Homo sapiens: one gene and its partner. The protein of the gene in region 2 interacts with the protein of the main gene of each other region in a pairwise test. Each region holds a gene or a part of one and is shown on either strand. Other genes may lie near its edges.

Evidence for each region.
Region 1: the proteins of KRTAP21-2 (region 2) and CLCNKA interact in binary tests that used the Homo sapiens proteins (3 or more experiments, as listed by UniProt).

The regions. Positions count from the first base shown.
Region 1 is NC_000001.11:16,028,528-16,032,350, reverse strand, and holds part of CLCNKA (chloride channel protein ClC-Ka), read right to left. Parts: intron 3,591-3,823; coding exon 3,506-3,590; intron 3,226-3,505; coding exon 3,052-3,225; intron 2,621-3,051; coding exon 2,551-2,620; intron 2,387-2,550; coding exon 2,276-2,386; intron 1,891-2,275; coding exon 1,677-1,890; intron 642-1,676; coding exon 508-641; intron 149-507; coding exon 60-148; intron 1-59. UniProt on the Homo sapiens protein: Anion-selective channel permeable to small monovalent anions with ion selectivity for chloride > bromide > nitrate > iodide. Forms a homodimeric channel where each subunit has its own ion conduction pathway.
Region 2 is NC_000021.9:30,746,197-30,748,681, reverse strand, and holds KRTAP21-2 (keratin-associated protein 21-2), read left to right. Parts: upstream 1-1,422; 5' UTR 1,423-1,479; coding exon 1,480-1,731; 3' UTR 1,732-1,888; downstream 1,889-2,485. UniProt on the Homo sapiens protein: In the hair cortex, hair keratin intermediate filaments are embedded in an interfilamentous matrix, consisting of hair keratin-associated proteins (KRTAP), which are essential for the formation of a rigid and resistant hair shaft through their extensive disulfide bond cross-linking with abundant cysteine residues of hair keratins.

The DNA of each region.
Region 1 (3,823 bases), on a different chromosome or scaffold from region 2:
CCCTCCCATCCCTGCTGACCCACCCCCGCCCCATCCCCACGCCCCTCAGGAGTAACCACCTGGTGTCCTGGAGCCCTGGAAGGAGGCTCAGCCTGGAGGGCCTGCACCAGCTGGGCCCTCTGCACGATGCCTACCAGGATCTGGGACTCTGGCAAGTAGAGAGGGAGAGGGAGGGAGGTGCATTATGAAGAAACAGGCCTGAGGGCCAAGCTTCCGGAAGACCTTGGTGGTGTCCCCATGCTCCTACCCCAGCAGCTGCCCAGGGACTGCCTTACAAGCACCCAGCCGACTCTCTTTAGACATGTCAACCACCCCAAGGGAGGGTAGCCATGATTTCCATTTTGCTGATGAGGAAACTGAGGCTCAGGTGAAGTGACTTGCTCAAGGTCACACGGTTGGTTGCTAAGTCACAGAGCCTGGATGCAGATCCTGTCTGCCTGACAGGTTCAAGAAGGAGGCAGAGGGCATCCCCTACCCCCGACTTCCTCCTCCCTTCCAGCTGGGCACCTGTGCTCTCCACCAGGGGATACTCGGTCACGTCTGTGGAGGTCACAACCTTGACCACCTCCTCCAGCGGCGTGTCCTTGGCCAGTGTGGTGATGCTGTGGTTCATGAAGTGCTCCACCCTCACATGGTGGGAGCTGCAGGCAGAGGGGCTCCCATCAGGTCCCGGAGTCGGGGATGTCAGACCCAGGCCAGCAAGGGGATCTGAGGGGAGCTTTGCTTGAACCAGGGACCCACGGCTCTGGAGTGTGAGCAGGGCTGGAGAGGTTCCTGGAATGAGGGACTCCTAGAACCCACAGTGGGAGGAAACCTGGGGACCACATTACTGATGGCCCAGTTCCAAATCCCCAACCCCCTGGTCCCCCATGTCCCCCAGACCAGCTTCACTTGGGTCTTGTCCCACCTTGGACAGAGCTGAGTGTGAGATGACGGAAAACCAGTATCTGCCAGGTGGTCAGTGACTGGCCATCCATTAATGAATAATGAGATTGGAGTACAGACCCAGCAGCCTTCCCTGGATAATTCCATTTGATTATAAAAGTGTATGTCACCCCCAAGGAAAAACTTGGAAGGTTGAAAATCACTGGTATAAACAGCCCCATTTTCCCGATGGGGAAACAGGTTCAGAGCAAGGCAGCAGCTTGTTTGTGTTTGGAGCGGGGCCTCCGATTCGGACTCTCAGAGCCTCTTTGGTCTGCTTTTCTGGCGCCAGAAGCTGCTCTGGTCCTATCTGGTTGAGTGAGGACTTCAAAGCCCATTTCCATTCTCGTTCCACCTCCTGCTCCCAAAGTCCCAGCAAGGACAGCAGGAGTGGGGAGAGGGGAGGAGACCTCTCGGATCTGGTGCTGACTCTCTGTGTCACCTGGAGCAAGACACGGCACCTCTCTGAGCTCTGGTTTCCTCAATCTGTACACGGGGCAATACTCATCCTCCTGCTGTGAAGCCCAGCTGACCCCTAGACAGACACTGAGGCCTCAAGGCCAAGGACTTGCCCAAGGTCACCCAGGGCACTGGGGAGAGTGGAGATGAGAGCACAGCTGTGTGTCAGCCCCTCCCAGCCCCCATGTCGGAGGTCAGCTGCGGTGGTGTTTCTTTTTGGAGGTGCCCTCCACCCCCAGCCAAGCCCAAACACTGTGACCCCCTTCAGTCAGCCTGAGGTGGGCACCACTCACCCGATGTTGCGGCCCAGAATCCGTGGCAGGTATGGCAGCTTCTTGACAATGATGGTGCCATCATAGAAGGAGGGCTGGCAGCTCTGTGCAATGGCGTTGGCTGCCAGCACCGCCATCAGCACGGGCAGTGCATGCACTATCTGGCCGGTCAGCTCAAAGGCCAGCAGCGCCGTGGAGATGGTGTGGGTCACAGCCCCTGAGAAGGCTGCAGCCCCTGCCGGGGCAGAGCCACACAGGTCGGCTCAGGCCAGGAGGCAGGGGCCAGCCTGATGTGAGGGAATAACTAGCCTGGCTGCTGCCGGGGGCTAGGGTGGGAATTGTAAGAGGCCACAGCCTGGGCACTGTGGGAAGTGCCCCAAGGCCTGGGCTTGGTGAGAGGAGAGGGATAAGGGAGGCCGCAGGGCTGGGGACAGGAGCCACGAGGAAGTGATGGGCCCCGGGGAATGGTGGGGCTCAGGAGGGACAGACCCCCATGAGGGGTAGGGGGTTCACTGGAGGACTCAGTGACTGCTCCGTGCCCTGGGGAACCACCAGCCAATTCTCCAGGTCCAGCCCAGCCCCACGACATTGCCCACCCAGCAGGGCCGTGACCCACTCACCTGCCAGAGCATACCCCCCGGGCATGATGGGATTGGTAACCCCTCCAGTCACAATGCCCTCAGGGAAGGCGACGGCAAGAGCCTCTCCCAAGAGGCGCCCGATGGCAGCTCCTGGCCACAGACTTAGGGTGAGGGGGAGCCAGGCTGACCCGGCCCCCACAGCCCTCCATCCCTGAGGACCATCCTTAGTACCACCCGGGAAGAGGGTGAACCAGGATGCATGGCCCTGCCCCAAGAACCCCAAAACTCTCAGAACCTCAGGACCCCAGACTCACCAAGGATAAAGATGGGCATGAAGTACCCGGCAGGCATGGGGATGGTGGTGGCCAGAATCAGCATCCAGAACTGCAGGAAGGGGGAGCCCAGGGCAGAGGTTAGAGGCCGCTGGGCAAGGTGTGGACAAGAGAAGACAGGACAGGGGACAGGGGAGTGTCCTAGATAGAAAGAGGGTGCCAGCCATGCACCCACTGCCAGAGTCTGGCATTAGGGGAGGGTCCTCACCCTGAGAAATGCCCACTGTATGCCTGGCACTGTGCCAGGTACATTCCTTTCTTCCTTCTCTGCCTTCCCAGTAACCACCCCATTTTAAAGATGGGAAGACTGAGGTCCAGAGACCTGAAGCCACTTATCCAGGACCATGCAGTGGGCAGGGGGCACAGAAGGAAGTGTGGGTGAGAGGCCTGGGCTCCATGCCACCAGGTGCAGGGAGGCACCCCCGCCCCTCCCCACCAGAGCTGGTCCTGGCTCTGTGCACACCTGGGGGTCAGGGGGCCCACCTTCATAACCAGGAAGAAGGCAAGGGTCCCAAAGATGGTGAACCGCGGGTGGTACCATTCCCACCAAAGGTGCTGGGGGTCGAGCTCCTCGGGCCAGGGTGGGCTGGAGTTCTGGGTCATCAGCGCCCAGGAGTGGTTGTCGAACAGCGAGTCCAGATGCTGCTTCATGGACAGCTGTGGCGGGGCAGGTGGGAACTGGACATGAGGGGCCCCCCCCAGCGGCAGACCCCAGCCTCCCCCGCACCGCCTGACCCCGCCTGGAATCCTCCCCTGCCACTTCCCAGCGGGGGGCCTTGGGCAGGGCTCTGACCTCCCAGAGCCATGGTCTCCTTATCTGCAGAATGATGCCCAGGTGTCACCCTGGTGGGGTGCTGAGGGTATTACGTGAGACACATGCAAAGGGGAAAACAAATGGGGGTTCCCACTCCTGCCACCCCCGCTCAGGACCCCTTACCCGAGAAGCTAGGAAGTGGCCCACACCAGGCGGGTAGGTGATGGAGGCGAGAAGCAAGGTGGCCAGAGCGGAGTACACAGGCTTGCTGTGGGGGGTGGGTGAGCTCTAGGGCTGGCCCTCCCTTTCCTACATCCCGAGGAGAGGGAAGTAGGACCTGGTCCAGGCAGCAGCAGAGCTCCCCACCTGGGGGCTGATACCGAGGCAAGGACTGGTGAGGAGGAAGGGCGGGAGCAGGGAACATGGCCCCCTCCAGCGGGTAGAACCCGTGGGGTGAGCCCCTCAACTGGGTATGACTGAGGGCAGAGGAATCACGCAGGA
Region 2 (2,485 bases):
GCTTATATTTGGGCAAAAGAAAAGGGGAAAAGAAAGAAAAAGTTTTGTCTCCACCATGTATCAGGGTCATTGCTACACTACTTATATTGCCTGTGTATTTTCTGTAGGCCTCTTAATAAAATTTTAAATAAAAGTAATTATTTTTATTCCCATTTGGCAGTTGCAGAAACTGAGGTTCATCTAAGTTGAGGACATTTTCCATGGTCATATAATTAGGAAAAGACTCAGTCAGGAAATTAACCAATCTGTTTTCCAGGGAAAGCTATTTCTACTACAGAGCCTCTGGAACATGGAGGACATTGTACTGATTATCAATTTGTGGCCCCTCAGCATCTAATTCATCCTTCAGTATATTCTCTGTGCTGATAGATGGGATTCCTTTAAGTATTTCTCCTTCACTGTGAGCATGGCTTCAAGTTTTCTCAGGAGAGGATGCAGCAGGGACATTGCAGGAGGAAACAGAGCTCCTGCATTTTTGGGTGTGGCACAGAAGGGCAGTAGAAGGTATCAGCAGTGTGGGTTAAGGATATCCAATGAAGCTCCACCTCAGTTTTGGGTCCAGGATATGCTGGAAATTATTATTCAGTAGAAAGCACCGATGTACAGCATAAACATCAGAGTGGTCCAATTATTATGGATATCCAATTGTTAATTCGGTTCTTAAACACAAACAAACCTGTGTTTAAGAACAGAATTTAACAACTGGACATCAACAACAAAGTTGTGAACCAAGGAATTCCCCTCACTTTAAATGGAAAAATCAAAAGTTTATTCTATAAATTTTAAATGACACATATTACATAACTGACCTGTCAGACGTTTAACAAAAATTTTTTTTTCAAGCAAGAGAAGGTCATAGACTGCCTAGAAAAGGGGGGAATGGTCAAACTTTTCTTCAGAGAGAAGGAGAGGGTTTCAAGAAGTTGAGGTAGCACGTGGAAATACCCAATTCTTTGTCCAAAAACCATGATTTAGTAATTTTTAGTGACTATGATAAGAAAAGAACACCAAGGTATTAGGAAAGAATAAGAAGAAATGATGATGATGATGGTATTAAGAGCAGTGAGAACTCCTTATTAAATAGATAATTCTCAAGACCTTACAAGAACAGAAAGATAAACATACATTTATAGGTCAAACATATTTTGGTGATGTGTTATGTCATGGCTATGAAATGAAACTATGGAAAACAAAATTATGGTTGTATAAGCTTGTGTGTTTAGAACTTGTATATTTGTTTTCTTTTCAGGCATAAAAATATTCCTAGGGAAGTCATAAGCAAATTATGAATTCCAAAGAAAGTAGATGTACACAGAATGAGCTCATTTTAGGCAGATGATTATAAAATGAGCAAATAGAGCCCATGTGAGGATGACCCATGCATCCCTGGAAGTATATAAAGGTCTTAGAAGAGTAGAGGACAGTCACACTTCAGAAATATCCTCCTACACCTCAACTGAAATCTAACCTCCTGAAATCATGTGTTGCAACTACTACAGAAACTGCTGTGGGGGCTGTGGATATGGCTCTGGCTGGAGTTCCGGCTGTGGATATGGTTGTGGCTATGGCTGTGGATACGGCTCTGGCTGTAGATATGGCTCTGGCTATGGAACTGGCTGTGGCTATGGCTGTGGATACGGCTCTGGCTGTGGATATGGCTGTGGATACAGCTCTAGCTGCTGTGGCTACCGACCACTTTGCTACAGAAGATGCTATTCCTCTTGCTACTAATCATCACTACAGGTCATCCTTGGCTTTGCAATGACCTCTCCAAGATCAAGTTCAATTGAAATCTCCCCTACCCATTATCTTCACATCTAAGTAAAGGTTGACTATGGTCACCTGACTATCTGAATGCATATAAGAGAAGCTGTTGGCAGTGGATGGAGACTGAGTAGTTTCATCACATCGCTGAAGAGAGGAGATTTTATTCTGATTAATTTTCTAGTGTAATTTTCTAATGTAAGCTCTTACATCTTTTTCTGAATCTTTGTGCCATGACTATTTGCTGAAACACAAGAGGACTATATAATTGGAGCATACTAAAATGGAAAAAAAATAGAATTTTCTTAATAAAAGGCCTTACTCACTAAGAAGTCTGGTCTCCTTAATGTCTCCTTAATTTGAGGTTTTGTGGCTTCCTCAAAAGCTGTGTGACCACAACTTTAAATAAGACAACGTTATTTTATTGGTTGAATCCAAATACTTGTGTTTTACATATTTCTTAATTCCTTGTATGTTAACTCTTTACATTTTTATTTAAACATGAACACAAATATTAAGCTCAAAATTTTAAAATATGCATGAAAAAAGAATTAGAATAGAACCAAGAATGAGACAGGGGATCTACTCATGAGGTTAATGCACTAGTTCAGCAATGACTATCTTGTTTGAGCTTAAGTCAAGGTAATTAAGAGGCAACAATATTAATTTAATGTTAATAGCTTTTGAAATATGTAAAACAAGAAATCTTAGACTAAGCAGA